4 separate regions of the Homo sapiens genome follow, and all the other regions are linked to region 3. Evidence: fine-mapped expression QTL. A gene starts in region 3. Each other region holds a variant in brackets. All regions are shown on one strand. Distances are from middle to middle. Region 1 has its middle 12 kb from the start of NUP35. Region 2 has its middle 130 kb from the start of NUP35. Region 3 holds the start of NCKAP1 (NCK associated protein 1). Region 4 holds the start of LOC124900540 (small nucleolar RNA SNORA77).

Region 1 (8,313 bases), 75 kb after region 3:
GAGGCGGGCGGATCATGAGGTCAGGAGATCAAGACCATCCTGGCTAACACGGTGACACCCCGTCTCTACTAAAAATACAAAAAATTAGCCGGGCGAGGTGGCGGGCGCCTGTAGTCCCAGCTACTCGGGAGGCTGAGGCGAGAGAATGGCGTGAACCCAGGAGGCGGAGCTTGCAGTGAACCGAGATCGAGCCACTGCACTCCAGCCTGGGCGACAGAGCGAGACTCCGTCTCAAAAAAAAAAAAAAAAAAAAAAAAAGATATTTCATAGAGTACTTTTAAAGATTAAATGAGATAATGTGGCTTAATAGTAGGCACTCAGTTTTTTTAAAAGTTGAAGTAGATTTCTATATCATGGGTAGCTCAGGAATGATGTTTTCTCACAACATAAACCATATTCTTATAATAACAAAGACTCTCTTTCAATAAGTAATAATATATACTACAATTCTCATTAATTATAGAAAAATGAAGAGTCATAAAAGCTTTCCTTAAAAAAAAGTAAATTACCTTTTCAGTAGAGTTAAGAAAACGGGAAATCACTGGTATTCAATTCTGTGGTCTTTTCTCTTTCAGCAAATAAGAACAGCTATACCTTGTCCGCCACCGCAAGCTGAAGTATGTGGCTCTTTGATACTGCAGACTCTTTTTTTTTTTTTTCTTTTTTTTTGAGATGGAGTTTCACTCTTTTTGCCCAGGCTGGAGTGCAATGACACGATCTCAGCTCACTGCAACCTCTGCTTCTCAGGTTCAGGTGACTCTCCTGTCTTAGGCTCCTGAGTAGCTGGGATTACAGGCGCCTGCCACCACACCCAGCTAACTTTTTGTATTTTTAGTAGAGATGGGGTTTCACCATGTTGGCCAGGCTGGTCTTGAACTCCTGACCTCAGGTGATCCACCCTCCTCGGCCTCCCAAAGTGTTGGGATTACGGGCGTGAGCCCTGCGCCTGGCCCTGTCTGTATAAAACAATTTGAATGACAGTGGATTTCTTATCAGAAGACATGGAGGCCAAAGGGAAGTGGCATCATATTTTTCAAATGTTTATCCTACAACCAGAAAAAATAGTCTTTAGGAATTAAGGGAAAATCAATCAAGACATTCTTGCTTTTTGGTTTTTTGTTTTTTTTTTTTTCTTCTAGATAGGATGTCTGTTGCCCAGGCTGGAGTGCAGTGGCATGATCTCAGTTCACTGCAACCTCTGCCTCCCAGGTTCAAGCAATCCTCCTGCCTCAGCCTCCAAGTATCTGGGACAACAGGTATGTGCCACCATATCCAGCTAATTTTTTGTATTTTGTTGTTGTTGTTGAGACAGGGTTTCACCATGTTACCCAGTCCGGTCTCGAACTCCTGGACTCAAGTGATCAGCCTGCCTCAGCCTCCCAAAGTGGTGGGATTATAGTTGTGAGCTATTGTGCCTGTCCTCAAGACATTATTATATGAAGGAAAATGAAGAAAAGCTGTGGCCGGCAGACCTGTTCTAAAATAATAGCTTAAAAGAAGTTCTCTAAACAGAGACAAAATGATATAGGAAAAAAATTCTTGGAACAAGAAATAACTTTGCAAACAAAATATGACTGAATAGAATAAGCTTTCCATGTCACCTTGAGTTACTACATTAAGTTTGAGGGTTTAAACCATAATGGTAACAGTCTGATGTGTTTTTATCTGTATGTAGAGGAAATATCTAAAACAATTATATTGCAAATGGGGAAGGATAAAAGGGCATAAAAGTTTCCATATTTTATTTGAAATAGTTAAAATAACAGTAGTAGAGTGTGATCAGTTATGTATATATAGTGTAGTACCTAGAGCAACACCAAATCTACTCAATCCCTTCCAGAAAACAGAAGAGGAGGAAACGATTTCCATTTCGTTTTATGAAGTTAGTATTAGCCTGATACCCAAAACAGGCAAAGAAAGAATACAGCCAAGATCACTCTTCAATACAGATACAAAAGTCCTTAACAAAATATTAGAAAAAAGAATTTAGCTCTTCCTTCCTGTAGGAGACAGCTTTTTAAAAAACTCAGCTATTTATAAAAAGAATGACGTAGCATGACCAAGTGGATTATGTCAGAGATGCAAGGTTGTCTCAACTATTGAAAATAAATCAGTATAATTAACCATATTAATAGGGAAAAGAAGAAAAATCACATAATCATGTAAATTAATACCGAAAAAAACATTTGACAAGCTTCAACACCAATTCATCACTCTCAGAAAAATAAGAATAGAGAGGAAACTTTCTCAACTTGATAAAAAGCATTTACAAAAAACCTCTATAGCTGCAGACAGTGGCTCACGCCTGTAATCCCAGCACTTTGGGAGGCAGAGACAGGTGGATCACCTGAGGTCAGGAGTTCGAGACCAGCCTGGCCAATATGGTGAAACCCCGTCTCTACGAAAAATACAAAAATTAGCCAGGCATGGTGGCACGCACATGTAGTCCCAGCTACTTGGGAGGCTGAGGCAGGAGAATCTCTTGAACCCAGAAGTTGGAGGTTGCAGGGAGCCAAGATCCTACCACTGCACTCCAACCTGGGTAACAGAGCAAGACTCCATCTCAAAAAATAAAAATAGCCGGGCACGGTGGCTCACGCCTGTAATACCAGCACTTTGGGAGGCCAAGGCGGGTGGATCACGAGGTCAGGAGTTTGAGACCAGCCTGGGCAACATGGTGAAACCCCGTCTCTACTGAAAATACAAAAAATTAGCCAGGTGTGGTGGCAGGCATCTGTAATCCCAGCTACTCGGGAGGCTAAGGCATGAGAATTGCTTGAATCCGGGAAATGGAGGTTGCAGTGAGCCGAGACTGTGCCACTGCACTCCAGCCTGGGCAACAGAGTGAGACTCCATGTCAAAAAAAAAAATAAATAAAAATAAAAAACAAAATAAAATAAACCTTATAGATAATATTATATTTAATGGTGAAAGACTAAATGCTTTTCTCCTAAGATCAGGAACAAAGCAAGGATGTGTGTTCTCACTGCTCTTCTTCAACATATTGCTGCAACTCCTAGCCAGTGTAATAAATCAAAACAAGGAAATAAAAGGCAACAGATCAGATAGGAAGAAATAAAAGAGTTCCTTTTGCAGACTGCATAGTTGTTTACATAAAAAATTCCAAAGAATTTACAAAAAAACTGAATGCAATTGTACTTCCACATGCTAGCAGCAAACACAACCACTAAGATTAAAAATACAATATGATTTACACTCACTCAAAAAAACAAAAGTGAAGAGGCCGAGCGCGTTGGCTCAGGCCTGCAATCTCAGCACTTTGGGAGGCCAAGGCAGGCAGATTACCTGAAGTCAGGAGTTCGAGACCAGCCTGGACAATATGGTGAAAACCCATGTCTACTAAAAATATAAAAATTAGCTGGGAATGGTGGTGGGCACCTATAATCCCGGCTACTCTGGTGGCTGAGGCAGGAGAATCGCTTGAACCCGGGAAGCAGAGGTTGCAGTGAGCCAAGATTGTGCCATTGTACTCTAGCCAGAGTGAGACTCCATCTCAAAAAAAAATTAAAAAAAAAAAGTGAAGAAATATTTAGGTGTAAATTTAATATAACATGTACAGAACTTATATGCCAAAAGCTATAGAATGCTAATGAAGAAATAAAGAGAGATCTAAATAAATGTAGAAAATTGTTAATGTATTGAAAAATTAAGTGTAGTAAAGGTATCAATTTACCTCAAATTGATACACAGCTTTAATCAAATTCCTATGAAAACCTCAGCAAGACTTTTTACAGATACAGACAAGATTATTCTAAAATGTATACGGAAAGGCAAGAAACAAAAATAGCTACAACAATTTTGAAAAAGAAGAATAAAGTAATCTGGTTTCAAGACTGGTTATATAGCTACAGTAAACAGGACTGTGTAGTATTGGCAAAGAGACAGACACTTAAATCAATGGAACAGAACAAAAAAATCCAGAAGTAGACCCATATAAATATGTTCAAGTGATCTTTGACAAAGGTGCAAAAGCAATTCAATGAAGGAAAGGTAGCCTTTTTAACAAATGATGCTGGAGCAATTGGACATCTGTATTTCCATAGGCCAAAAAAAAAAAAAAAGAAAGAAATTCTATGTAATCCCATACCTTCAACAAAAATTAACCAAAAATGGAGTATAGACTTAAAAGGAAAACTAAAACACTTTTAGGAGAAAATCAAAGAAAATTGGCCAGGTGCGGTGGCTCATGCCTGTAATCCCAGCACTT[T/G]GGGAGGCCAAGGAGATCAATCACAAGGTCAGGAGATAGAGACCATCCTGGCTAACACAGTGAAACCCTGTCTCTACTAAAAAAAAATACAAAAAAATTAGCTGGCGTGGTGGCAGGTGCTGGTAGTCCCAGCTACTCGGGAGGCTGAGACAGGAGAATGGTGTGAACCCGGGAGATGGAGGTTGCAGTGAGCCAAGATTGCACCACTGTACTCCAGCCTGGGCAACAGGGTGAGACTCCATCTCAAAAAAAAAAAAAAAAAAAAAAAGAAGGAAAATCACTGGGTTCCAGGGCTAGTCAAAATGTCCTTAGACTTGACACCAAACTTGTGACCCACAAAAGCAAAAATTTATAAATTGGAAATTTATAAATTGGACCTCATCAAAATTAAAAACTTTGCTATTTGAAGGACCTTGTTAAGAAGATGAAAAATGGAAGAACATATTTGCAAACCGTGTATTTGACAAAAGATTAGCATCTAGAATATATTTAAAAAATTCTCAAAATTCAACAGTCAGAAAAAAAATCAACCCAATTAGGAAATGGACAAAATGTATGAAGAGACACTTTACTGAAGAGGATATACAGATGACAAATAAGCACATAATAAAATGTTCGACATCATAGCTACTGGGGAAGTGCAAGTTAAAACCACAATGAGATATCACTACATACCCACCAGAATGGCTAAGAGATAATGACACACCAAATGTTGGCAAGGATATAGAGAAATGGAATCACTTATATGTTATTGGTGGAAGTGTAAAATGGTACGGCTACTCTGGAAAAGATTTTGGCAGTTTTTAAAAAAGCTAAATACACAACTACTGTGTGACCCAGCAACTATACCCCTGGGCATTTTCCCCAGATAAATGATTATATATATTAATACAAAAACGTGTACATGAATGTTTATAGACAGTTTATTTGTAATAGGCAGAACTGGAAACAACCCAGATGTTCTTCAATGGGTGAATGGCTGTCTAAAGTGTGATGCATCCATGCCATGGAATACCATTCAGTAATAAAGAGGAACAAACTAATGATGTGTGTGCGTCAAGCCGAATGAATCTACAAAGAATTATGCTGAGTAAAAAAGTCAATCCCCAAAATGTTACATACTGTATGATTCCACTACTATAACATTCTTGACATGACAAAATTATAGAAATGGAGAACAGAATAGTGATTTTCAGGAATTAAGGAAATGGTGGCAGGAGAGGGAAGTTGGTGGGGTTATAAAAGGGCAACATGGTAATAATAATGTCCTTTAACTTGATGTATCACTGTTCAATATCCTGGTTATGACATTGTACTTTAGTTTTGCAAGATGTAATCATTGGGAGAAACTGGGTAAGGGGCCATGAGATTTCTCTGCATTGTTTTTTACAACTGCTGGTGAATCTATAAATATCTCAAAAATAAAGTTTTTAAAAGGCTTAATGAAAAAAACACAAGTCCTTGACTTCATGGAGCTTATAATCTAGTTGGGAGGGAAGATATGGATTATTTTTTAAAGTACAGAAATATATAACTCAAACAGTAACCTCATCTAGTTATGAGGGAAGGCTTTCCTGACTTTTGAGTGACATTTACCATCGGTTAGAAAAGATAAGTAGGCGTTGACTAAGTGAGGGAGAGTGGGTTGTTGCAGGTCTTCCAAAACTGAGGGAGGAGAATAGGTAAAGACCCAGGGTTGGGAAGGAGCATGACACATTGGAGTGATGGAAAGAGGGCTGAATGGCTGGAGCAGTGAACCAGAAGTGATAAGGTGGTGTCAGATGAGGCTGGACTGTTAGGCTACATCAAGCAGGGGCTTGTAGGAAGCTCTAGGATTTTGGCCTTTTAAACAGTGAAAGAAACTGAAAAGTTTTGAGATAGGATCTCGCTCTGTCACCCAGGCTGGAGTGCAGTGGCATGATCAGGGCTCACTGCAGCCTCAACTTCCCGGGCTCAAGCAATCCTCCTGTCTTAGCCACCCAAGCAGGTGGGACTACCTGTAGCAATCCCACTTCAGCCTCCCAAACTGTTAGGATTACAGGTGTGACTCATTGCACCCAGCAAAATGGAAAAGTTTTAAGCAGGAGAGAAACTTATGCAGAATATTACTTTAAAAAGATCAGTCTGACTGCACTGTGGAGAGTGGATTAGGGAGGGAAAGCAAGATCATTAAGGAAGCTAGGTCCAGGTCTCAGGTGATGAAACTGAGATTTTGCTGAAGCAGTAAAAATTGAAAAAAAAATGGATGCATTTAAATGGTATTTAGGAGGTAGAATTCACAGGACTTGGCATTGAATTTGTGTTGGAAAGAGAGGTTTTCAACACCATCCATGGTTTCATGCTTTAATAACTAGATGGCTGGTGGTGCCATTCCCTGAGATAAATATTCAAGTTTTATACAAAAGACCATGAGTTTGGCTTTTTAAATTTGATTTTGAAGTACCTTTGAGATATCCAAGTCAAATAGATATGTCAAGTAGGTAATTGGATACATAAATTTGTACCACACAGAATGATCTGGGCTGGCGATATGAATTGAGAGTCATTGTAGGCAATGTGCATGGATGACAACATATGAGGAAAGAGTGTAGGGCAAGGCCAGATCATAAGATAAAGCCTTGGGGGACAATTTTATTATTATTATTACTATTTTTATAGAGACAGGGTCTTGCTATGTTGCCCAGGCTGGTCTCGAACTCCTGGGCTCAAGCGATCTTCCTGCCTCAGCCTCCCAAAATGTTAGAATTATAGGTGTGAGTCACTGGCACCTGGCTATGGGAACAATTTTTAGTGGCTAGGTAGAGGAGGATGAGTCAAGAAAAGACATGGTCATATGGTGAGAGAGGCAGGAGGGAACTCAAGAGAGTATATTGCCAGAGAAACTGAAGGCTACAAAGAGAGTGTTCAAGAACTCACACTGAGAAGTTACAAAAGGTTAGAACCTAAAATGTATTGGATTTAGCCTCATGGTGGTTGTATTAGTCTGTTCTTGCATTGCTATAAACAAATACCCAAGACTGGGTAATTTATAAGAAAAGAGGTTTAATTAGCTCATAGTTCTGCAGGCTGTATAGAAAGTATAGTGGTATTTGCTTCTGGGAAGGCCCCAGGAAGCTTTTTACTCATGGTGGAGGGGAGAACAGGAGCAGGTGCTTCACATGGTGAAAGCAGGAACAAGAGAGTGAGGTGGGACATGCTACACACTTTTAAACAACCATATCTCATGAGAACTCACTATCTCAAAGACAGTACCAGGAGGGATGGTGCTAAACCATTCATGAGAAATCCACCCCCATGATCCAATCACCTCCCACCAGACCCCACCTCCAACACTGTGGATTATATTTCAATATAAGATTTGGGTGGGGACACAGATCCAAAACATATCAGAGGTCTTTGGTGACTTTGGAAAGACTTGTTTGGCAGATTAATGGGGGAAGAAGCCAAATTAGTTTATCAAAGGCTACATCGTATGCTGAATGACAGATAAGACCATTAGGCTAAAATTCAATTGTTGAATATATTATATTTAATATATATCTATTGCTGGGTAAATAAGTCAATGTATTACATGAGGTAGGTAAAATTATTCACACTATTCAGATTTTTAAAACAGAGTCTTAGAGATGTTAATGTCACATGTCTATTAAGTATTTGAAGTCAAGATTTGCACCTGTAGTCAACAACACGCTGATTCTCTAAACAAAGGCATTATCAAGCAAGGAAAGATTCATGTTTTCCTTTTTTCGTTTTTTGTTTTTTGAAGAGACAGGGTCTCATTCTATCACCCAGATTGGAGTGCAGTAGTGTGATCATAGCTCACTGCAGCCTCAAACTTCCTGGGCTCAAGTTATCCTCCTACCTTAGCCTCCCAAGTAGCTGGGACTACATGCGTGCATCACTATGCCTGGCAAAATTTTTTATTTTTATTTCTTGGGTCCCCAGAAGTTGCCCAGGCTGGTCTCAAACTCCTGGCCTCAAGTGATCCTCTTGCCTCACCCTTCTGAGTGGCTAGGATTATAGGCTGAGGCCACCATGCCCAGCGTTTTTCATTGATTTTTTTTCTCTCATTTTTCACATAAGCT
Region 2 (8,251 bases), 210 kb after region 3:
GAGAATTTATATGTCAGGCCAGTGTTTCTCAACCCTTTTTAATAGACTGTGTAAGCTTGCAGGGTACAGTAGACAGACTTCTACTTCTACTTCTACAGTAGACTGACTTCAGACAGTAGGGAAGCTTCCTTCTGTTGTAGATGACCATTCCAGCTTTAGTCAAATAAATATGGGAATACCTGAAGCAGGTATAAATTTTGTCCACAGTACTTGAATTAATGCATTCATAGCTTTTGGGGGGCAATCCTTTGCTCTTCAGTCCAATCCCATTTGATTCCTTAAAGAGAGTAGCTCTATACATTTTGTACTAAGCTCAGAGTGGGAATTTTTGCTAGGGCTGAAACTCTTGGCCTCTTGTGTTACATCTTCTCAGAACCTTCTCAGAAGGTTCACTTTCGTCTAAGGTTCTGCTAATTCTCCTGGCACTCTGGGAGCACGGTTCTGGTTTCTGCTCTATGAGTGACCCATAAACTCTGCCAATTTATTCTAAGTCCCACTGAGAAAAATTCTTAAAGAGTTACTATTTGTCATTTAGGATATATTTTACATAAAGAGTAAATAAATATACATGTATGTACACACATATGTGTATATATATGTATAATGAATATGTATACACGCATATATATGTTATACTACGCTTTCTCTTCCTATAAATATATACTCTATATGTAGTCTAAAAATGCTTTGTTATTGAAGATCTGTTTAGCTAGTAAGTTTCTTTTCATTCATGAAAAAGACAAAATATATGTTTCTAGAGGTTATTTAGTAATTACATAACATAAATTGGATATAGAAGTTATATAAAGTTTAATCTCTAATACTGTAAAAATATCTCTTGAGGGTATTGTGGTCTTGTTTTCAAAGAGTTATATTTTAGGGATACATACTAATATGTTTACAGAGAAAATAATCTGACGTTTGGGACTGGTTCAAAAACGATCTGGGCAAGAGGAGGGAAGTTATAGATGAAACAAACTTGATTATGTTGATAATAATCTTAATTTTTCTGTATACATTTGAAATTTTCCTAATTAAAAAATACCCATATGTTTGAAACACATATACTTCTGTCCTCTGACCCCACACTCATAGGGAAAATTGGTGGAAATAAAATGCAGATCTCCTGCAGTGTAAACGTGTGACCCTGAAGCCCTAAGTTGTCAAAACTTCCAATTGCTCAGTGGCACTAAAGTGCATGCATTTATTTCCAGGAGTATTTAGCCCATGTTTCTATTCATTTCCTCATCATTAAATCTCAGTTTCAATAGCACAGGGTGCCACAAGCTAAGAATCAGGTGAAACTTCCTATGAAAATAAATGCAGAAATTCCCAATTGTGTCTATCCTAATAAAAGCAAAAGGAACAACTAATTACCTATCTTATTTTAGAAAATAAAGTCATTGACAAGGTCATAGCCCTGCTATCCAACCTGACTGTGGATTATTCTGAGTACAAAGCAAAGCTAGTTTTTTTTTTTCTTGCCAGCGAACTCTACAAGGATATACCTATACTGATCTTTCTCAGGTTATTTTGTAATCACACTAAACTTGACTCCATGGCACCTAATTATTCCTTCAGGAACCCCTCCTTCCCTGCCACTGACCATGTATAGAAATCTGAAAACATTTATAAAATACAGTTGAATATATATTTTTTGGTAATAAAGATTTTATATTTGAAGACATGTTTACTAAAAGGTATTTCATTTATAAAAATTTAAACTTTCCTTAGTTTATATTTGACATTATTAGAAAATCAGTTCTCCATGTGGAACCTTTCATCTAAAATGTCGCAGGAACTGGGAATGGAAAAAAGGAAACTTTACACATTCTTTCACATCTTGAGTTTTTCACATGCTTTTTCTTTGCCTGAAATCTCTTCCCCATCTGTCCCTTGCCAGGTGGTAAATTCTTGTCCATCCTTCAGGGGCCAGCTCAGCTCAAGTCACTTCTTGCCTGATGTCTTTCTCAGTCTGTAAAGGATGCGACAAGGGCCTTTGCACACAGTATATCTCCACTATTGTTCTTACCACATTGTGCTGTAATAGCTGTTTTTGTATTTTTTCCCTATTAGATTACAAGCTCCTGCCAAGAAGACTTTAGTAACATTTATTAAATTGTTGGGTTGAATTGTGTATTCAAAGAACTGTTGAAATAATGGAGAGATTTCAAATAATAAATACATAAAAGCAAGAAAATGTCAGGGTTGAGGAAATGTTAACTGAAAAAATTACCTTTCCCCCAAAGTAATGGCTAAATATAACTTGCTTTTTGAGAAAGATTAAATCACCTTGAAAATAATCATTGACAAGAACATTTGTCCTACATTGTCACATCCAGTTGGAAAACTGCATTTAATAGTTTACATTCAATATAAAACTTGGACTCCTTCAAAAGATAAGTTGATTTTCCTCTTTACAACAAGATACAAGTTACTTTAGTACTTCATAATAGAATAGAAAAATGATTCAGGTTCACAACATGAAAAATACACTAGGAAAGAAAAAGATTTTACAGATAAGCTCCAGGTCTACAGTAAGCCAGAGCCTCACAAGAAGCTATTACTGTGTAAAGAGTAATGTGCTCCCTGTATTGAATGCAGCACAGTTGATGCGTTCCAGTGGCATCATAAACAACAAAACCCAAGTTCAAATCATTCACCTGAACTTGTAATTGAATTTTTCAAGATGTGATTTAGTGTAGTAGATGGAACAAGGATAAAATATTTCAAATGCAACAGTGATTGAACAAGTTAGAAAAATTAGTAGGGAGTGAATATTAATACGGGGTAGTGTTCAGACATCTTGAGATAGGAAAGCTCCTCACTCACCTAATTTAACAGTGAAAGAGAAAATAATACCAGGCTGAGTAAGAGGACTAGTGAGCAAGGAGAATATAGGACAATATTTTACCTTTGGAATGATAAACTTAGTGAAGTCGCTGAAAGCTGTGGTATGGATGTATCTTTTTTAAGAGTGCTGGATTAAAACTTAGGAAATATAACTATAAATCTCAGCTCATAGGTAGGACTCAACAGGCCTCCAGTTCCAAATTTGGAGACTCTCTTCTTTTTATTAAAGTGTATTCAAATGTACTACATTACTCAGAATTTGGCTGGCTAAAAGATTTATAAATTTGATGAGTTGCGAACTTCTTTTACCAAAATATGAGCTCCAAATGCTGTGAGCCTGGCAATTCTGTTTGTGTGAATGGGCTTTGGATTTCCCAACATTAAAGTTTAGTATTTATTGTTGGGTCTGCAGTGTATGATGAGAAATACTGACATGAATTTCACTGTTTTGATAATGCCAGCACCAGGGCAGAAACACTTGGTAGGACTGAGATGGCAACTGATTCTACAATATTGAGTGGCTTTCTAGTGAACCCTCAAGGCTTTGAATGGAAGTGCACTGATGTTTTTCATTGTTTGCTGGATGTAGCCTTTTTCCTGATATTTGGAGGTA[ACT/A]CTCAATTCTTACCTCCTTTCCTTGGAGCTTAGAATTAGAGTCTGTTTCCAAATATAGCCAGCAGATGGTGCAATTTACTTTATTTATACTCCATCTCAAATGAAAAAGCATTAGACTATTCTATATACATACACACACATAATATGTTTCAATCTCATTCATATGTACAAATTTAAGTGTATGTTTCAAAACTTTTTATCTATTCGGAAACAACCTATTTAACATAATTTATCTCCTTTTAGAAAAGCAGTGTTCATTTTTTAGAGTTTTGTTAATGATTCAGACTTATATTTTATTAGCTTTATAGACCTAAAAGGAAGACATGAGAGGAGACTATTAGTCATGACAGGAAATATATAATTTCTTTTTGATCAGTTTTCTTACACAATTCATAATCACATGTCCTGCAAGACAAGAGTAAAGCTGGTTCTGATGTGCCCATGTAATTCAGCAATACTTAGCTATAATTTTGAGAGTCCTGTAATAACAAATGTTAAAGTTCTGATTTGGTAAGTGTATCCAACAGAGCTTTCAAGTTGAAATTTATTTATGGAATCATTTCAGTTATTAGACTATCCATCCTATCTCTTGTCAATAAAGGATTGTTTTCCATAGGAGATAACTAATAACTTTATAGAATTTTAAGATGTAATAGAATGTTATTGTCCCCTGGAGGTCACACTTACCAACCAAAGGGTAATAACTTTTATTAGAAGGCTGAAATAGTCTATAAATATTTCATTAAATCCTTAAAAATGTGCAGGTGTTAATTCTGCACTCTCTTCTTTTGATTTCTGGCTACCACACTGAGATGGATAAAATGTTCCTGGGAACCTGGGGAAAATGCAATTGTGCTGAATTTATCACCTGTAATATTTCCTGGTGGGATTATCTGAATACATGTGGATTTTAGGAAGAATCTTCTCAGAAAATTTCATTATTATTCTAAATGCTAGGCTCAGCATCTAAGTTCTGCCTTTATCATTCTCTCTCCCAACATGTTCCTACCAATTCTCAGCTCACTTTAGGCAGCAGGTGAAGAAAGGAGAGAAGACACTACATTTTCTGGCCATCTTAGTCGATTCAAAAGCATTTATGGAGCATCTGTCTGTGCAGGGCACTGGCGTGGTGCTGAGCTGATTGAGTTAAAAAAGACATAGACCTTGTCCTTGAGGCAAAGCAGCTGCCAATTGCTGACTCCAGGGAGAAGTGTTTTTATTTCTTCAGTATGGGCAAAGTTGCCATGGAGCAGGTTATGTGCGGGTTTGAACAGGTAGGGGATGCCCACATCATTCCTATCATCCTAGTAAACAGATAAAAATTTCACTTTATCAGACTGCAAAGAAATGCAGTTTAAATTTCTGAGAAATTAGAATTATAGAATACTCTAAAACAAAATATAGTTTTGACTTTCAGGTTAGCATTGTAACTAATGACATATTGCAAAATCGAAGTCCCTTCAGGGTTCAATTTAATGAATACAGAATAGAACTTAAGGTAATAAAACAGATTCTCACACAAAGGGTTGGTTAGATTTTGCATCTGAATGACACTCTGCTGTTACCACCCAGAGCATCTTTTCTCTTCTTGAACCACAAAAAAGACTTGGCTTTCTGCTTTTACTTCTCTCGAACATCATTCCTATATAATAAGTCACTTGTACAACACTTGCGCATAAGCAATGAGTATGAGGATATTTTGTGTGTGACCCATTTACTTGAAGGAATTGTTCTATTCTAGGCTCTTTGGTTGCAAGGAACAGGAACCCACTCAAATGGTTCAAGAAAAAAGTGATTATTTAAAAAAGAGAGAAATTCATGAATAGAAAATACAAGAACAATAGTCAGGTTTTATAATGAATGTCAGAATTCTATTTTCTTTCTCTTTTTATTTTGTAAGTTACTTTTAACAAATGGTCCCAGGTGAACTTGAGGAGGTCAGGCGGGGCCAGCTGTATTAGTCAGGATTCTCTAGAGGTACAGAACTAATAGGATGGATATATATATATATATATATATGATATTATATATATTTATGAGTTTATTAAGTAGTATTAATTCACATGATCACAAGGTCCCACAATATAGGCCTTATGCAGGCTGAGGAGCAAGGAAGCCAGTCTGAATCCCAAAGCTGAAGAACTTGGAGTCCAAGGTTCAAGGGCAGGAAGCATCCACTATGGGAGAAAGATGTAGGCTGGGAGGCTAAGCCAGTCTAGCCTTTTCACGTTTTTCTGCTTTATATTCTGGCTGTGCTGGCAGCTGATTAGATGGTGTCCACCCAGACTGAGGGTGGGTCTGCCTTTCCCTGCCCACTGACTCAAATGTGAATCTCCTTTGGCAACACCCTCACAGACACACCCAGGATCAATACTTCGCATCCTTCAGTCCAAACAAGTTGGCACTCAGTATTAACCATCACACCAGCCAAAGCTGGATCATATAAGGTCTTGAGGTTATGGTCAGGGATAATCTTGTGGCCATATGTGAACAACATGAGAAGGAGAAGTAAAGCCCTCAAATGAACTGAGCTGATTGGATTTTCTCTTAAAAAATTGACCTGAGACATTGGTTATTTGTGACTGGCTCTTAAAATACTGGTAATAACATTTAATATTTGTCAAGAGCTTACTGTGTGTCAGCTCTTGTCCTAGGCTTTTTTCATGTTTTAATGCATTAATCGTCACAACTGTATGATATGGATCAGTGTGATTCCATTTTACAAATAAAGAATGGAGGCATGACTAAAAAGTAAAATAGCTTATACAAGTTGACAAAAGATGTAGTAGAGCTGGTACTGGAACCCAGTCAGTCTGACTCCAGAGCCTGTGCCTAGCCACTATATGACACTGTCTTCAAAGTGTTAGAGTGGGGAGCTGGTTCTATAGCAAACCAAAGCCACACGCAACTCAAAGTTATGGAGTAGGAGAGGCAGAATGATGAGTTAGCAGAAGAAGCAAGTATATGGGGAAGAACACCGAGCAGTTGCTCGCAGCAGCACCACCACTGCCTAGATTGAACAAAGCCTAGTACATGGCAGGTGCTCACTAAATATGGGTGGAATAGTGAATGAAAATTTTCAGCAGGGGCTGTGGGTGTGACATATCCTCTAAGAAGCTCAGGTGTGCCAGTCAGGCAGGAGCCTCCAAATAACTTATTTTGATCTGTTTCCTTTACAAATTAACTAAATTATACATACACTGCATGAGTACATTCTCCTTTTTAAAAACATAAAGCTCTGATCTAGAGAGAATAGAGTTCCTTTGGGCCACTTCCCCATCTTTGTTTCCTCCTTTCCACTCCCCAAAGATCCTTCCAGGCTTTGTTAATATATTTAGATATGTATATATAGAAAATGTTGGAACTCTAAATTGTTGTTTTGCTTATTTAATAAATATTTGCATCAGTATTATAGTGTTCATTTTTTCCCTCATTTAATGTATCATAGAGATCCAGCTATACTGTTATGATAGACATTCAGATGGTTTCTAAACTTCTTACTATTATAAAATTATGTTTATAATTTATATTACAGATTTTAAAAAAAAGAGTTTTGCTCTTTTGCCCAGGCTGGAGTGTAGTGGTGCAATCTCAGCTCACTGCCACCTCTGTCCCCTGGGTTCAAGTGATTCTCTTGCCTCAGTCTCCCAAGTAGCTGGGATTATAGGCACCCACCACCATGCCTGGCTAATTTTTGTATTTTTAGTAGAGACAGGTTTTGCCATGTTGGCCAGGCTGGTCTCGAACCCCTGACCTCAGGTGATCCACCTGCCTCGGCCTCCCAGAGTGCTAGGATTCCAGGCATGAGTCACCATCCCCGGCCTGTACAGTCTCATGATTATCTTCCAAAGAGTTTTTAATTTTTTATTACTTCTGAAACTCGTAAGTTATAAAAGAATCAAAGCATTATCTGAGATGTCAGCTAGTCCAATGACTGTAAACCAGGGTGGTGGAGTGGTAGTGGGTTTATCTAAATCACTTCTGAAGCACTTTTCCAATAACAGCCTCCCTATCTTCTGGAAGAATTCTGGTATGGCAACCATGTTACAGTGGCAGTGGGAGTGAGGGGGGACGGGAGGTGAGTGAGCACCTGGGTTGTTTGCTAAACTACTTTAGCAATTATTGTGATAGGTACCTACCCCCCAGAATGCCCCCAAAACATATAACTAGTTGAAGACAAAACCAGAGTTTGATGCAAAAACTCCTGCCAGTTTTAGTCTAGTCTTTTCCTAATTATTTTGCTTTGCCCTGACAATTCATCTTCATCTCCATAATCCTTATTAGTTCCAGATAGAAACTTCCTTTAATTTACTTAAACTCTGTTCTGGGAGCTCCCCTGCTCTCATCTTCTACACTTAAAAACAAATGAACAAATTAATGAACAGACAGCAACACAAACAAGCTAAAACAAACGGGCAGAGACGATCAACTATACACTGAAAACTCATTTTCTCATTTCCTGGCCTGGGGTTATTGCTGGGGGTCAGCTTCCCAGCCAGGTGCTGCTTTTCTTAGGCCCTTTTGCATCCAGGGGCATCCATGCACTCATCAGTTATCAACCACCAATCAAGCAGCTGTCTTCTTTCCCGTGTCTAATCAGACAAGGGTCATCTGTCACAGAACTATCCAATCAGCATTAAGGTGCCGAGTACAAAAGGCTGCTCAAAGAGAGAGTTTTTCTGACCAACAACATTCTACTTTATTGAGGATTTGGATGTGAGAGAGATATATATATGGAAAGCTGACATTTGGCTGTGGGAGCAGAAGTAAAAAGAGACACGGC
Region 3 (8,313 bases):
TTACCATCTCTCCCAGATTATAATCCTTAATTCCCTTCTCAAGACTCCGACAATCCTACTTACACACTGCATTTTAGTTAAATATCTATACATCTCTCTCCCCACTAAGACACTAATTTCTTGGCACTAGAGACTTCATCTTAATTTACCTCTATTTCCCTCATGCCAGGGAACACATTCAATAAACGAAGAGTAAATGAATAAATTAAAAGGGAAAACCTCAATATTTGAGAGTAACTGAAAGAATAGCTCATATGATGGCTTATAAAACAGTTTTAAAGATGCAATTTTATTACTATCTAAAATAGTCAACTATGCAATAACAAAGCATTTTCCAGTATGGGTTCTTCTACTTAAAACAAGAGAATCATTTCAAACTGGCACATATACAACCCTACTTACAAACTAACAATTCAGTAGCTTATAAAGTTATAAAGATGGGCAGACAGTGAATTTTTGAAGTCACTCATTTATGTTATGTTTGAGTTTTTGACAATAAACATATATTCCTCTGGTAATCATTAAAAAATTTTAAAGTTACTTAACAATTCCATAAAGGAAACAAAAGATGGATTATTTATCATTGCTACTTAAAAATTAAAAATAATTATTTTCCTAAGCATCTCTGGAACACGCTTCTGCATCTGATTGACCAAAAGAGAAAATAACACCCTAAGTGGAAACAAATACAATACTGAAAGGGAAGACTAAAACCAGTTCCCCTCCCTTTACCCTGCACTGCTCCCTTCACAAACATCTTTTCTTCCCCCACTAAATAAGCAGATACTGGCTAAAGACTTTCAATTTTACAATGCTAGTCCTGTTAAACTTTTCCTTAGAAAATAAATTTATCCAAAATAATGAGAAAAGGATAGGGAAAAAAAGAAAAATATTCCTCTAATGTTTTTAAAGAAGTAAAACTGCATTTAAACCACCACAATACTCCACTTTAAAAAGTTTGTAATAGTTGTATGGGTTTTTTTTTTTTTCTCATTCTCTGACCTTTACAGTACAGGCAGAAATTTAACAGGAGGAAAAGACGCAAGTATTAACTAAGATCTTTTTAATACAGAGATTAATCTCATGTTGGTAATGGTGGAGGAAAAGAAAGGAGAAGGAAAAAAAGAAGAGAGTAAACCACACACACAAAAATTTAACTGAGCAAAATGTTTTCTTTGGGTATTTGGCAGTTTTGTTGAACAGTTATACAATTTCAGAAAAACAATGTTGCCCAAAAGAGATGCTCAGATTCCTAAATACTATTTTCACATATTACCATCCTCTACCTTCAGAAGCAATTCTGTGAAGTATGTAGGGCAGGCATTATGCTCCCTACATTACAGAAAACTAAACTGAGTTCAGTTATTGTTTAAAATGAAACATAATTTCTACTCTACTACTTCACCATAAAATCATAAAGATAGAGCTGGAATAGACTTTAGTGTTCCTTTTACAGTTAATTTTCCCCATTTTACAGATGAGGAAAAGTGAAGCTCAAGAAAGTCAAATTACTAACCAATGTTAGAGAACTCTCAGTGACAGAATGAAGATTGGAATGCAAGTCTCTTAACTTCTGGCCCAGTGCTCTTAATCCCACCACCACACAAGTTGCCATGCTGGAACCTTTAAAAATGTTACAAATCTCTACATGAGTGAGTCACATTATTAGGTCTGCAAAAGGGAAACCATATATTTAAAAACAAAAAAAAAGGAATTAAGCAACAAATAAATTTAAATGTAAAGCTACCAACAACCTTCAAGTCTTTTCCCTAAAATCCGCTTTTATGTGTTCCTACATCCTCCGTCAAACTACAAGTTCCCTAAAATTCCCATAAATTGTAAATATTAAGATCTCAAAATTTTTGACTGATGAAATTAAAAAAAAAAAACATTCTTCAGTAATCATGCTCCAACTTCCCTAATAAGCGCCAAAGCATATTACTGACAATAATAAGTTATTTTACTTAACTATTTTTCATTGTATATGTTCACTAAAATATCATTTCCACTGTATACTTCCAATTGAAACAGAGTAATTAGATCTGGTAGACAATCTAATGCACATGCATTAATGAAAATGTGATAATTGATTGGCAAACATGTATTATGAGGTGGAAGGTTTTTTTTTTAAGACTAGAAGAGGTTGAGATTGAAAAGAGTATGTGGTTTATAATGCAGTAAGAATGCAGACAGCATGAACCTAATAAACACATGGTGAACAGATCTTACTCACTTCTTTGGCAAGATATTTGAACAAATGTTTCAATTCCTAGCCAGCTGGGAAGATATGCCAGACTCACAGACAATTCTATAGGCTGAAAGATCCAAAATCTTATCTGATTCATTTACATGCAAAATTACACAAAGGGAGCAAACCCAAGGGTATTATTATTAAAACTAGAGCACACAGGTTTTGAGAGAGAGGAGGGAAGTAATTCATTCATTTCAACCTGGCCTAACTGAAGGCCTCGAGTATCAGATAAGGCCCTAAATACTCTAGTATTTCAAAAATTACACTGTCCCTGCCCAGAGAAAATTCACACTCAAGCAAGGTAAGCAATGTATTTCTTAAGAAACTAAAAATATAAGGCAAGTGCTAAAATATGACGTTTCAATAAATCAAAATATTTGACATGGATATAATAATGATCACATTCAATGCATTTTAACTTTCACAAGTTCAATAATACAAGAGGCTGAAGCTTCCCAAAACAGGAAGTGAAAAAAACAGTGCTTTTGAGAAAAGGCAATGAACTGGAATTATTAGAGTTCAAATGCCCAGAATTTCATTTAATCTTATTTATGAAGGTGGGATATTAAAGTTTGATTGCATTTATCCTACAAAAATGTTTAATAAATGCTTAGAAAAGGTATTTTGCCCAAATACCCAAATCACTTTTGATGTTACTCTCACTTCCTCTTTTAGAAACCATCATAACCATTTCCTTTAAACCACAATACCACAGGTCTAGTAACTTTTATAATATTTGACTTGTTCATTTTTGGACAAAATTCATATAGGAATCAATTTCCAAGTTTTTTAAGCAGCACAATCTCCCCGAACAGTTCAGGTCAATGCAACCTCTAAGTAATACTATTTAAAACTGAATTATTCCTAACCTATATAAATTTATAACCTAGGCTCCTTGGTAAATGCAGAGGGGCTTCTTTGTCATGACACTGAGCTCCTGCCACATAAAAGGTAACAAACTGAGTAAGCATGTTGCAGTTACTCTCCAGATAGCACTGGGTTTAGAGTAATAAAGCCTTGCAATTAGGTGAGCAACCAGACTTTGTCCTTATCCAAAATTTATCATCATTAAACCAGGACACTCTTTAGAATTAGTGTCTACATCAAATTGTAAAAAATAAATCAATTTTACACTCAAACGCTTGGAAATGAATTTCCAAAGAAAAAAAAAAAAACCTTTCTTCAGAAGCCCTCTCAACCTACAATCTATTGCTATGATTAAACTAAACGGTAACATTCACGATATATTAAAAAGCCAACAAATAGTTATGAAGGTATGACATCAAAGACACATTGGAAACTCGATGGATCTAAATTTTCCAAATATCTCTTTTTCTCTTTATCAAATTGTTTAAAACTTACCAACCTTGCCTTAAGGGGAGAGATTTTGTTGTTTTGTCCTACGATAATGAATGTAATTATTTGTTCTATCTTTACATGGACTTTTCTAAACTTCCAGTGGTCTTCCACTCCTTACTGTACTGAGGACATGTAAAAGCCTTTAAATGGGCCTATTAGCTATAGTTGCTCAAATTATCAGACTATGCTATAAATCAGCAGCAATTGCAACATTTTTACGGTTTTTATTTTGTACAGACACCGAACTTTAAGAAATGGTATTGGAAAATCTAACATGAGGAGGAGTACAGGGGAAAGAGTAGAAGGTTGTTATTCCAGTTCTAGTGACTCACAGCCTAGAAGTATTTCAGAAAATTGGTTCCACCCTCACTTCCCCCTCCTCTCCACCTTCAAAATGAAATAATCCCAAATCGTCAACACACTCTCAATGGCTTTTTATTTAGCAATCTAAAATAAAGTGGCAAAGTGGAGGGGATACGGGATTCATCCAATCAGCCCTTCTCTACCCACATTCCCACACCAAAAAATGGGGATGTGGGGTGTAATCCCTGTTCACTGCTGCCATCTCCGTAAGAATATGGAACACTCAAGTTTTCCTACCCACCTAGAATTTCGCCCACCCACCACCCTCCCTTTCCTATGGGCCCCATCATGGGGGCGGGGGCGCCGAGGAGGGGACAGCTCCCGGCTCCCAGCGGCGCCCCCACCCCGTGCGAGGCCCAGCGCCCGATCCCGCCGCCGGGAGCCGGGAAATGGCTTCTCTGCCTTCGGCCGGCCGGCGAACCACAGGGAGAGGCGCCCGGGACTCCGCATTAGGCCGCGGCGCATCCAGGCGACCCCGGGCCGGGCCTCGGGCGGCGACGCCGAGATTTCTACACCCGGCGCCTCCTGCCGCCCCCACCCCACGGCCTCCCTTGCCCTTCATCCCTCCCGGGCCCGCCCGCCTCCGCCGCGGCCTCCCCGGCCCGTGCGCACCTTCTTGATGTTGTAGAGGCGGGTGAGCATGCCGACGCCCCGGTCGTTGAGGATGGTGAGCTTCTCCGCCAGCTTCTGCTGACTGGGCTGCAGCACTGAGCGCGACATGGTGGTGCTGGTGCCGCCGCCGCCGCCGGCCGCCTCGCGCCCAGTCACGGGCCCGCGGCCTTCGCAGCAGCCTCTCTCGGGCCTCCTCCCCTCCCGCCCGCGACCTCCGCCTTAGGAGAGCGCGCCCATGGCCCTCGCGCCCCAATCCCGCGCCGGCGACAGAGCGAGCCGCGGCGGACTCCTCGGAGCCCCTTCTCCCGCAGCAGCCCGCGCCCCGGCAGCCTCCTGCCTTCCGCCCGCCGCCCTTCCGCCCCCACCCCCGGCGCTCTCCGCCCCAGCCCCCAACGAGCCGCCTTCCCCGGCTGCTCCACTAGGTGTGGCGGCGGCGGCGGCGGCGGCGGCGTCTCCGGCGGCTGAGAACGAGGCCGCTTCCCGCAGCCCCGGACGGGCCCTCGGTCACCTGATCGGCAGCGCCGGCGCCCCCGCGAGGCCGGACGGGGAACTGCGGCCGACGGGCCCTCGGCATGGCCTCGCCGCCGCCGCTCTGGCCCTGGCCCTGGCCCGGACCGCCCACTACGCCTGATGCCGGGATGGGAGTCCCAAGCGGGGACTGAGTGGGGTCGCGTTGTGTGCTCTTTCCACTTCGCCCCACACCCCACTCCTTCAAGTTCCCAAAAGTTGCTTTTCCGCACCACCCTTCTAAAGAAACCGGCAGAAACTCTGCTGGGAGGCGGGGTGTTTTCCAGGCGAGTTTCGCTTAAGAGTGGGCTGGTGGCTCCAAGCGCTTTTTCCTCCCACTGCTTGACAGGCGCTCGCCGCAGAACACAGCAGATGTTGTGCTCCGCGAGGTGGGGATCGCCTCTGCCAGCCTCCCCAGCCCATCCTCAGTCTCCCCGCCTGGAACCAGTTTGTGAGAGAGGAGGTCGGAAGTGAGGGTAACTCAAGTCCTTGAGATAATCACAATCTAGACTTTGTCGGCGAGGAGCACCCATCCGGAGGAGACGCAGTAGGTCCTGGCATGTGGAAGGCAAAAAATAAATGTTTGTTCAATGCCTAAAGGAACCGCTCCCATTTTTTTACAGCCTCCACCCTAAATCCCACTTCTTCTTGGAAACATTCTTCTTTGCCATCTCATTTTTCCTGATCAATTTCTTCTTAGCGACACTCCAAGGCTACTCCCTTGTCAAATGTATTAGACATGATTCCAAAAGTGAACTAACTGAGGACTTACGTAATTGAGGTGAGAAACTTCAGCCAAGAGGACTCAGGCCTCTAATATTTTTGGCTTTGCCTTTTCTCGATATGTTAATTTTTTATATTATATTCATTAATTTTAAGTCAGTAACAAAATGTCCCGCCACATTCAATAAGACATTCTAAGAGTAATAAGCCATCACTGGATTTATCAAAACTCTTTAAGAAAAGGAAATTGTAATGAATAGCTTTAAAATATTTTTTAAAGCTACTATATCTACTATTCGTAAAGAAATCTTCATTTTAATATTCCAACAAGAAAGAAGGAGTGGACTGAATGGATTTAATCTAAGGGGCATTTAAAAGAGTCCTGTTCCCACCAAAAGAAGTCATAATCATACCTGCCAGTGTGCCTGAAATTCTATATACAAAGCTGCAGTACCTTGAATGAATGCTTTGTACCTAGAGAGTCTTAAGAATACAAACACTTCAGAGAGATCATCTGTCGAGCTATTACTAGTCATTAACTGGTCAAGGAATTTAATTTATCTGGTTACTTCTCAGCCTGATAGTTAACATTTTAATTTAGAGGAGGCAAGGTTGTGGGGCCTGGAATAGTAAGGGCAGACCTGAGAAGGGGAGGCTGCGAGGAGGGGTTTGGGGTAGCCAGATAAGAAAATTTAAAAATGTTGAACATTGGGGAAATATGTGCTCCTTTAGGGAGACTACAAATAACTAAGTCTAGACGCAGAATTACAGAGTGCTACCAATAAAAGATTGTCTCATTTTCTAGTTTTTAAAAACTGCTGTATAGGGAGAACAAGAAAATGGCACTGTATTATAAATTTGAACACAACTCTTACTCCCCAAGAAAAACTATCATGTTGCCATATAAACTTGAATACTAGTAGCTGCTTATAACTCAGGAAGTACCCAATAGGAGAACGCTGTAGATAGTAGTCTCATTATTCAATATTTATTGTCACTAATTCATAGACATACTGGCCCTAGACTGTAATGAAATGTATATATTTGCGTAAAAGAGATTAGATGTAGATGAATTACAATTTTTGTCTTTCTCTACATTTTGCATTAAAAAGAACAAGTGTACGGGAATTTTTCTTAAACTTTTTAACTTTTTTGTAGAGACAGGGTCTCCCTATGTTGTCCAGGCTGGTCTTCAACTGCTAGGCTCAAGCTCCATCACACCTGTAACCCCCACACTTTGGGAGGCCAAGGCAAGAGGATTGTTTGAGTCCTGAAGTTCAAGACAAGCCTTGGCAACATAGGGAGACCCCCATATCTACAAAAATTTAAAAATTAGCTGGGGGTGGTGGCGTGCCTGTGGTCCCAACTACTCTGGAGGTTGAGGTGGGAGGATCACTTGAGCCCGGAAGGCAGAGGCTGCAGTGAGCTGTGATCACACCCCTGTACTCCAGTCTGAGTGACAGAGCAAGACCCTGTCTTAAAAAGAAAGAAAGAAAGAGAGAGAGAGGAAGGAAGGAAGGAAGGAAGCAAGCAAGCAAAGGAGGGAGGGAGGGAAGGAGGAGGAGAGGGAGGAGGGGAAGGGAGGGGAGAAAGGAAAGAAAGAAGGAAGGGAGGGAGAGAGGAAGGAAAGGAAGGAAGGAGAGATGAAAGAAAGAAAGAGAGAAATTGAGGCCAGGCACGCTGGCTCACTCCTGTAATCCCAGCACTTTGGGAAGCCAAGGTGGATGGCTCACTTGAGGTCAGGAGTTTGAGACCAGCCTGGTCAACATGGTGAAACCCATCTCTACTAAAAATACAGAAATTAGCCGGGCATGGTGATGCGTGCCTGTAATCCCAGCTACTTGGGAGGCTGAAGCAGGACAATCACTTGAACCCGGGAGGAGGAGGTTGCAGTGAGCCCCGTGATTGCACCACTGCACTCCAGCCTGGGTGACAGAGTGAGACTCTGTCTCAAAAAAAAAAAAAAAAAAAAAAAAGGAAAAGTACATCCATCATCCAGCCTCCCTTGCAGCTTATGTTCTGACCAGTAAGATATAAGCTGTCAAGAACCTTCCTAAAGGGACTGCTGCTGCTCTCCATTTGCCAGTTCTTCCTCACTTCCTTCATTCTGCCACACCCAACAAGGATGCAATGACCACTATCTTGAACCAGGAAGACAACAGCCACTCAGTAAGGATGACAAAACATAAAAATGGAAGGTGTATGTGGGCTTTTTAGAACACAACAGCCATGTCAAACTTGGCCTGTCTAGACCTGGTTTTGTACGAAAGAGAAATAAACTTCTAGCTTTTTTATTTGTTTTTTTTTTTATTTACTTACAGCCAAACGTGATTCTCAATAATCCTCAAACGTGATCCTCAATAATAAGTTTCTGTGGCCAACTTTATAATATCTCTAATAGGAATAAAATAAGGGAGGATAACTAGATTTAATAGTTATGGTTTTTGCACTGTGTCAGATGTTGTTACAATTTGAGCTACATTTTCTCATTTACTTCT
Region 4 (8,261 bases), 25 kb after region 3:
GAGACGGAGGCTGCCTCTGTCTCCCAGGCTGGAGTGCAGTGGCACGATCTGTGCTCACTGCAACCTCCACCTCCTGGTTTCGAACAATTCTCCTGCTGCAGCTTCCCAACTAGCTGGGACTACAGGCACCTGCACCACCCTGCCTGGCTAATTTTTGTATTTTTAATAGGGGCGGGTTTGAGATGGCCAGGCTGGTCTCAAACTCCTGACCTCAGGTGAGCTGCCCACCTCGGCCTCCCAAAGTGCTGAGATTGCAGGCATGAGCCATTGCATCTGGGCTTTTAAAAAACGTTTTATGTGAAATCTCGTCTCTACTAAAAATACAAAAAATTAGCCGGGCGTGGTGGCAGGTGCCTGTAGTCCCAGCTACTCGGGAGGCTGAGGCAGGAGAATGGCGTGAACCCGGGAGGCAGAACTTGCAGTCAAAAACACAAACAAACAAAAAAAACATTTTTATTACAGAGAATTTCAAACATGAAAAGAGTAAATAGAGGAGTATATTAACTTCCCATGTAATGATCACCCAGCTTTGACACTTAATGACATTTTTCCAAACCTGAATGTAAAGGTTTTGTCCGTAATCTAAACCAGAACTCTTATTTATGCTAAAATAATACATTAGAATAAAAAATAATATAATAGAAACTCTTTTTGTTTTCTTTTTTTTTTGTTTTGAGACAGAATCTCGCTCTGTCCTCCAAATTGGGGTGCAGTGGTGTGATCTCAGCTCACTGCAACCTCCACTTGCCAGGTTCAAGAGATGCTAGTGCCTCAGCTTCCAGAGTAGCTGGGACTACAAACGCACAGCACCACTCCCAGCACAATTTTTTTTTTGTTTTTTGATACGAAGTCTTGCTCTGTCGCCCTGGTTGGAGTGCAGTGGCTAGAGTGCAGTGGTGAGATCTCGGCTCACTGCAACCTCCGCCTCCCGGGTTAAAGCGATTTCCCTGCCTCAGCCTCCTGAGCAGCTGGGATTACAGGTGCACGCCACCATGCCCAGCTAATTTTTGTATTTTTAGTAAAGATGTGGTTTCACCATGTTGGTCAGGCTGGTCTCGAACTCCTGACCTTGTGATCTGCCTGCCTCGGTCTCCCAAAGTGCTGAGATTACAGGCGTGAGCCACCACGCCCGGCCAATTTTTTTTTTTTTTTTTTTTTTTAAAGACAGGGCCTTGCTATGTTGCCCAGTCTGGAATACACCAGCTATTCACAGGCTCACTGTAGCCTTGAATTCCTAGCCAGAAGCAGTCCTCCCTCCTCAGTCTCCCAAATAGTTGGGACTACAGGTGTTGAAAGCTAGACATTTTCACATTTCTTAATGGTAATTTTTATCAACATTTTAAAAAGAAGAGATGGTAAGAACAAATATCAAAGTGACACTCTTGGCAATAGCCAAACCAAGGGGTAAAACATGTCTATCAAACTGAACTTAAGCTAACAGCATGTGATATCATAATTATATGAGTAGTGCTTCCTAAATCCTGGTTTCTTCGAGAAGTAAGAATGTACCCAATGCTTTCATTTTGCTGAGTCACCATGTGGAAAGAGAGAAAAATCAACCACTTACTGAATGAATCACTTTGTTTTTCTTCTAAGTAATTTGCTCTTCTTTAAGAACTGGCAGGCATGAAGCTACCAGGACTTGTGCTACCTGTCTTGTCAACAGTAATACTCACCCAGGGATTACAGAAATGCTTTTAATAATAACATAGATCAGACACAATCTAAATTCTCATAGTAGGAAAGAGTTACAGGAGTTATATAGTAAACCTACACCAAGAAATTTCGTAGGAATTATATGCCAATGAAAGAAAATGTAGGTAGGCAGGTCTTAGTAATGTATATCTGCCTCTTTAAAGTGTTCTAGGGTCATAACCAAAAAGATTATGTAATTCAGACAAATGGGCCTTCTGAGAGGTATATCCGTTCTTGGTCTGACAAGGGATCAGGACAAGACAGGCATAGTGATCTCAAGTCCCACTTGGCCTGTGGACAATGACTGATTGGGTTGGACATTTGAGGTACAAAATCCAGACTAATTTATGGGAACCAAAATAAAGTTGCACTTGAGCTGTTTTACATCTTCTGTGGCACTTTGATGGAAACCATGCACTGAAGAGCCCATTGCCTAAACCATCCCATTCATAGGCATTCTATGGTGCTGCTCTACTGTTTTAAAGTCCCCAACATTCTTTGCTTTAGCCAAAAAATGTAGTGGCACTGACTGCAGAGGGTGGCTTTTTAAATATACTTACGTCCAAAAGGTAGATGCAAATGCTCCAGACCCCCCTTTCCCTTTGTTAGCACGGATTAGGTCAGTAGGCAGCCTTGTATTGAGGAGGAAGGTGTAAGAGGAGTTAGTCTGTTTAGGGGTGGGTCTGGTGGGGTCTGGGGTTGGGAAAAGAATAACAGCGATAGTCTTGGTCTGGCCAGAATGTGCTGTAAGAAGTTCCCTATGCCCTGATAAGAGAAGGAGGAAGTTCTCTGTAAGGTCCTCTGAGCTGGTCGCACCATGGTCGAGCCATCGTGACATTCCCCCGCCCTTGTGATAATGTACTTTGTGATATTCCCCAACCTTGTGAATGTACTTTGTAACATTCTTCCCCACGCTTGTGACAATACACACTCACCGCCCTTGAGAATGTACTTTGTAACATCCATCCCCCGCCCGCAAATAATTGCTCCTGACTCCACCGCCTATCCCAAACCTATAAGAATCAACGATAATCCCACCACCCTTCGCTGATTCCTTTCTCAAACTCAGCCCACTTACACCCAAGTGAATAAACAGCCTTGTTGCTCACACTAAGCCTGCTCAGGTGGTCTCTTACACGGACAGGCATAACATTCTCCTTCCCTGAAGAGAGCAGAAGGAGAGAACTTATCAGCATTCAGGAATGCTGTGAGAGAAGATGTGGCACTCCAAAGGCAGGAAACCATTTCAAAGAAATGTGCTCAGAGTTGGGCGGTCAATAAGGATTGCTTTCAAAGGAAAAAGATGGTGTCACAATTCTGCCAAAGCCTGCTCTGAAAAAAGGTTTACCCTTATAAAAATAAAGGGGCTGG[G/C]CGTGGTGGCTCACGCCTGTAATCCCAGTGCTTTGGGAGGCTGAGGTGGGCAGATTATGAGGTCAGGAGATCAAGACCATCCTGGCCAACATGGTGAAACCCTGTCTTTACTAATAATACAACACATTAGCCGGGTGTGGTGGTGCACACCTGTAGTCCCAGCTACTCAGGAGGCTGAGGCAGGGGAATCACTTGAACCTGGGAGGCAGAGATTGCAGTGAGCTGAGATAGCGCCACTGCACTCCAGCCTGGAGACAGAGCAAGACTCCGTCTCAAAATAATTAATAATAATAATAATAATAATAATAATAAAATAAAATTTTTTAAAAAAAGGGCCTATCTTCTCCCTATCCCTCTAAATCTTGGAACATAGATAATTTAATGGCACTGGGAGTTGCAGTGTTAGGGGGAGTGGTAGAGCTACCAAACCCAAGTAGTCAGCTTTCCATTTCCCAGGAGCTGAAGAGGGCTGGGTAGAATCAGCTCTGCTTTTTACCATTCTCTTCATTGACATCTATTCTGCCCCTGTTCATTTGAGGTTCACAAAGGCTTTCCTGCTTTCTTAGAGGAGTCTGACATCAAAACCCCAGCAGAGCCAATGTGGAGGGGTATGTGAAGGATGAGCATCTTTAAAATTACAGAAAGTGGTTTTCCCCATTGTGAGAACACTTTTCAATCTATTCTCACTGGGAAAATTAAGATATTCTAAACTTTAAGAAAATGCTGTCAACTTTAATAGGAAAAAAAGACTAAATTATTTGGAATTTATGGGAATGCAATCCAGTTGTGATGGTAAATAGTTTTATTTGTTTTTTTTTTTTTTTTTTTTTTTTTTTTTTTTTTTTTTTTTTTTGAGATGAAGTCCCACTCTTTTCACCCGGGCTGGAGTGCAATGGAGCGATCTCGGTTCACTGCCACGTCTGCCTCCCGGGTTTAAGCGATTCTCCTGCCTCAGCCTCCTGAGTAGCTAGGATTACAGGCATGTGCCACCACACACAACTAATTCTGTATTTTTAGTAGAGACGGGGGATTTTCACCATGTTGGCCAGGCTGGTCTCGAACTCCTGGCCTCAGTCGATCCACCGACCTCGGCCTCCCAAAGTGCTGGGATTACAGGCGTGAGCCACCATGCCCGGCCCGGTAAATAGTTTTAAAAGTCTCTTTTATTTAACCTAACAAGGGGCAAAGATTGCCTAACTTAAGTTTCAGTTGTTTTTATTTCCCCTGCTTCCCTTCTCATAATGGTTTGAGTGGAGAAATCATAAAATCATAAGTTTAGACCTAAAAAAGTCCTTGGAGATAATTTCTTCCCCTTCATTTTACAGATAAGAAATCTCAGGCCTGACAAGGTGGCTCACACCTATAATCTCAATGCTTTGGGAGGCCAAGATAAAAGGATCATAAGCCCAGGAGTTGGAGACCAGACTGGGCAACATAGTAACACCCCCATCTCTAAAAATTAAAAAAAAAAAAGAAATTTGCCAGGCACAGTCGTGTGCACCTATAGTCCCAGTTATTTAGGAGGCTGAGGCAGGAGAATCCCTTGAGCCTGGGAATTCAAGGTTGCTATGAGCTATGATCTTGCCACTGCACTCCAGCCTGGGTGACAGTGAGACCCTGTCTCAGAAAAAAAGAAAAAAAAGAAAAGAAATCTCAGAACAGATAAATAGCTAAATGTAGGAAGTCAAAAAGTTGCAGGAGAGACATTAAGTATAGATAATTCATAAAATAAAAATCAGATCCACGAAATCCTGAGTTTGTTGTAGAAAATGTCATTACACTTAACAATATTTTCTCTGCAGATCTGGATATGTGTTTGTTGTCTCTATTTTTGTTGGTTAAAGAATGGATCAAGGTTTTACAAAATTGTTTTTTGCTGCCACAGTGGAAATCTACAAAAATGGGTAATAGGCTATTTTGGGACCATTGTTCAGAAGTGCATTTATCTTAGAAATGGTTACCATGGAGATGAGCACACGTTGTGTGACTCTACAGCTTGCAAGTTAGAGTCATCCATGCTAAGACATAAATAGCTATATTATTACACACAGATGCACAAGAGCTCGTGAACACATGCACAATAAAGTTATGTTGTTCCTCTTTTTGTAAAATAATAATAAAATTCCATGTAGTGCTGACATTTGGTGGTGGAAGGGCCTGCACATCTTAGACATTTTAAAATGTAATATTGTATGATGATATAAAAACCACTTTTTAAAAACACCATAAAGTAGTCTGAATCAAGTTTAAAGAGTAACAACATACTTAACAAGTAAAATAAATGAGAGCATGTTTCTTAGACATCACTGCTTCTTAAAGTAGAAATACAAAAAAAGTAAAAAACAAACTCAGAAAATATTACAAAAAGTTCTTGAGTTATTTTTCCCAAAGCACTCAATATTGGGCATAGGTATTTACCTAGTTTCTCTCTCCCTCTCTGGCTAATTAAGTACTTTCTCTTTTTTTCTTTCTTTCTTTCCCTCTTTCTTTCTTTCTTTCTTTCTTTCTTTCTTTCTTTCTTTCTTTTTCTTCCTTCCTTCCTTCCTTCCTTCCTTCCCTTCCCCTTCCTTCCCTCCTTCCTTCCTTCTTTCTTTTGTTTCCCTTTTTTTTTTTTTTTTTTTTTTTTTTTTTGAGGCAGAGTCTCACTCTGTCTCCCAGGCTGGAGTGCAGTGGCGCGATCTTGGCTCACTGCAACCTCCCCGCTTCCCGGGTTCAAATGATTCTCCTGCCTCAGCCTCCCAAGTAGCTGGGACTACAGGTGCTCCCCACCATGCCCCGCTAATTTTTTGTATTTTTACGGGGTTTCACCCTGTTAGCCACCAGGATGGTCTCAATCACCTGACCTCATGATCCACCCGCCTCGGCCTCCCAAAGTGCTGGGATTACAGGCATGAACCACTGCGCCTGGCCTTGTTTCCTTTTTCCACTTGGACTTTTCTTTTTCTTCAGGAATTTTTTACCCTCTGTGTCCCCAGGCAGCTGCATCACCCTAGAGAGGTCAAAATGGTCACAGCACCATGGAATGCTCACTGGCAGACCGAAAAAGCACCCGCTGGATGCTGAGGGAGTCTGCAAAGAAAATAAAGGTTTTAACATTTCAGTGATCACTTGCCGAGATCACAAAGGCATATATTCTGATAAAGTTAATTTGCTTTAATATTTTTACCTTTTTCTTTACATTTTATAATGGATGTTTTCAAATTTTCAAACAAAAAATGAAAGGATAGTAAAATTAAGCCCTCTCCCAGGTATCCGTCACCCAGCTTCAATACTTATCAACATATGGCTTATTCTGTTTGGTTTACAACCCTCCTTCCCCCATCGTTTTAAATCAAATGCAAAACATCATAATAACAATTCTTTTGAATAATTGAACTAGTCAATAAGAAATCTTTTTTCCTCCACAATTTGGAGTTTTTTCTATTTTCCTTGGAAACTTCAAAGGCTTCATTGTGTATAGGGTGCAACGCAGGGTACTGAATTCAGTAGTGTAAACAATAATAACTATAATAATAATAGTAATAATAATAATGCTTTCTCCATCATGCAAGTGATTAAATACACCAATGATTTAGCCACATTTAGCTTTGAAGCTACATGCCATCATTCATCTATTTCTTTTCTTGTGTGAAAAGAAATCTTTTCTCATGCACCAGAGTTAATTTTTTCAAGACTAATTACTGCATATGTATTTAAACACATCTTTAAAGTAAGCCATGTACTTTGACTTGTTTTATAGAATCACAAGAAATATACATAAAATAAACAAAATACATGTTTTCTGCTTTTTTAAGACAGTGATTTTAACACATCTGATTAGTAAACAAACAACCTATAATAGCTAAAGAGTACACAAAAAGTACAACTATAAAAAAACTAATCATCTTTCACAATCTTTTCATTAAAAATAGCCATGTATGGGCGAAGTGGGTTGGCTCACACCTGTAATCCCAGAGCTCTGGGAGGCCGAGGTGGGCAGATCACTTGAGGCTGGGAGTTCGAGACCATAATGGCCAACATGATGAAACCCTGCCCTGTCTCTACTAAAAATACAAAAATTAGCCCGGGGTGGTGTCACGCGCCTGTAATCCCAGCTACTCAGGAGCTCAGGAGACTGAGACGGGAGAATCGCTTGAACTCGGGAGGCGGAGGTTGCAGTGAGCAGAGATGCACAACTGCACTCCAGCCTGGGTGACAGAGTGAGACTCTGCCTCAAAAAAAAAAAAAGTCACATATGATTTCTCAGTATTTGCTGCCATTTTCAAACTTAGGCATCATGTAGTTTTAGAGATAAAATCAACAAAATACAAAACGTAGGTCAGCAAAAAAGCTGATTATATAACCTTGATTTGCTTTCATTTTAGTACTCTTATCACACTGCCTTCTAGAATTTCAGTACTGAATAACTTGTGAAGTTTTTCCCCCAAATTTGTCCATCTAATATGGCTTATTCTCAAATGAAATATTATTTATCAATGTATTAATAATTAGATCCACGCCTTTAAAAATACATATAAAGTTTTAAAATCTTAATCTTTTAAATCTGTCTCAGGAAGTAAAAGATTTTTAATGTAGAATGAGAGACCCCTCAGAAATCAGAAAAAACATCTTTTCACTCTACATAGCCTCATCCAGGTTAATTAATATGTCTTTAAATAACCATTGTTTGAAAAGAGTTAGCGTTTCACCTTTATGTATAGCTCTAGTGCTTCTAGCATTTAACTATTCATCCTTATAAAATATCTACATAAATAGCTCCAGGAAAATATACAGGTTTTTAGGAACATTTCCAAGAAAAAAGTTACAGGGGACTCCTGACTCAATTGAAAAAGAAAGGATTCAAGATTAAAAAAGAGACATGTCATATTGTATTGGACCAGTTGATTATTCTAAATAATACTGACACTACAATAAATTTTGAGGGACAGTGCTATAGCTTTCTAATTCATCAATTACAAATCCAGAAATAGGGATGCTTTCCTTAGTTGATGTATAATCCAAACATCTTCTCAGCTTGTTGGATACTATTCTGTTGCTGTCTCTACCAGTACATAAGACAATGCATTCAATAACTTCATTACCCACCATATCCTTTTAGTTGACATAAAAGTACTTCTTTTAAACTTCAAAACATGTTCCCTATTATTTTTAATATCCTAGGATTTTATTAACTTCGTTCACATTATCCATATTAT

Evidence for each region.
Region 1: its variant is fine-mapped to the expression of NCKAP1 in whole blood (INTERVAL, PIP 0.97).
Region 2: its variant is fine-mapped to the expression of NCKAP1 in Th1 cells (Schmiedel 2018, PIP 0.95).
Region 4: its variant is fine-mapped to the expression of NCKAP1 in blood mononuclear cells (TOPMed, PIP 0.98).

The regions. Positions count from the first base shown.
Region 1 is chr2:183,107,931-183,116,243 of GRCh38, forward strand. No RefSeq gene overlaps it. Among named protein-coding and RNA genes, the nearest start is that of NUP35, 12 kb to the right of the region's middle. The variant T/G (reference allele first, on the strand shown) is at 4,229.
Region 2 is chr2:183,245,556-183,253,806 of GRCh38, forward strand. No RefSeq gene overlaps it. Among named protein-coding and RNA genes, the nearest start is that of NUP35, 130 kb to the left of the region's middle. The variant ACT/A (reference allele first, on the strand shown) is at 3,467.
Region 3 is chr2:183,033,407-183,041,719 of GRCh38, forward strand. NCKAP1 (NCK associated protein 1) reads right to left here and starts at 5,051. Exons shown (of 31, transcript NM_013436.5): 1 at 4,586-5,051. The coding sequence starts at 4,693. RefSeq lists silencers at 4,471-4,590, 4,651-5,240, 4,973-5,624.
Region 4 is chr2:183,058,208-183,066,468 of GRCh38, forward strand. It overlaps LOC124900540 (small nucleolar RNA SNORA77), which reads right to left and starts at 6,139; the gene lies at 6,028-6,139. The variant G/C (reference allele first, on the strand shown) is at 3,067.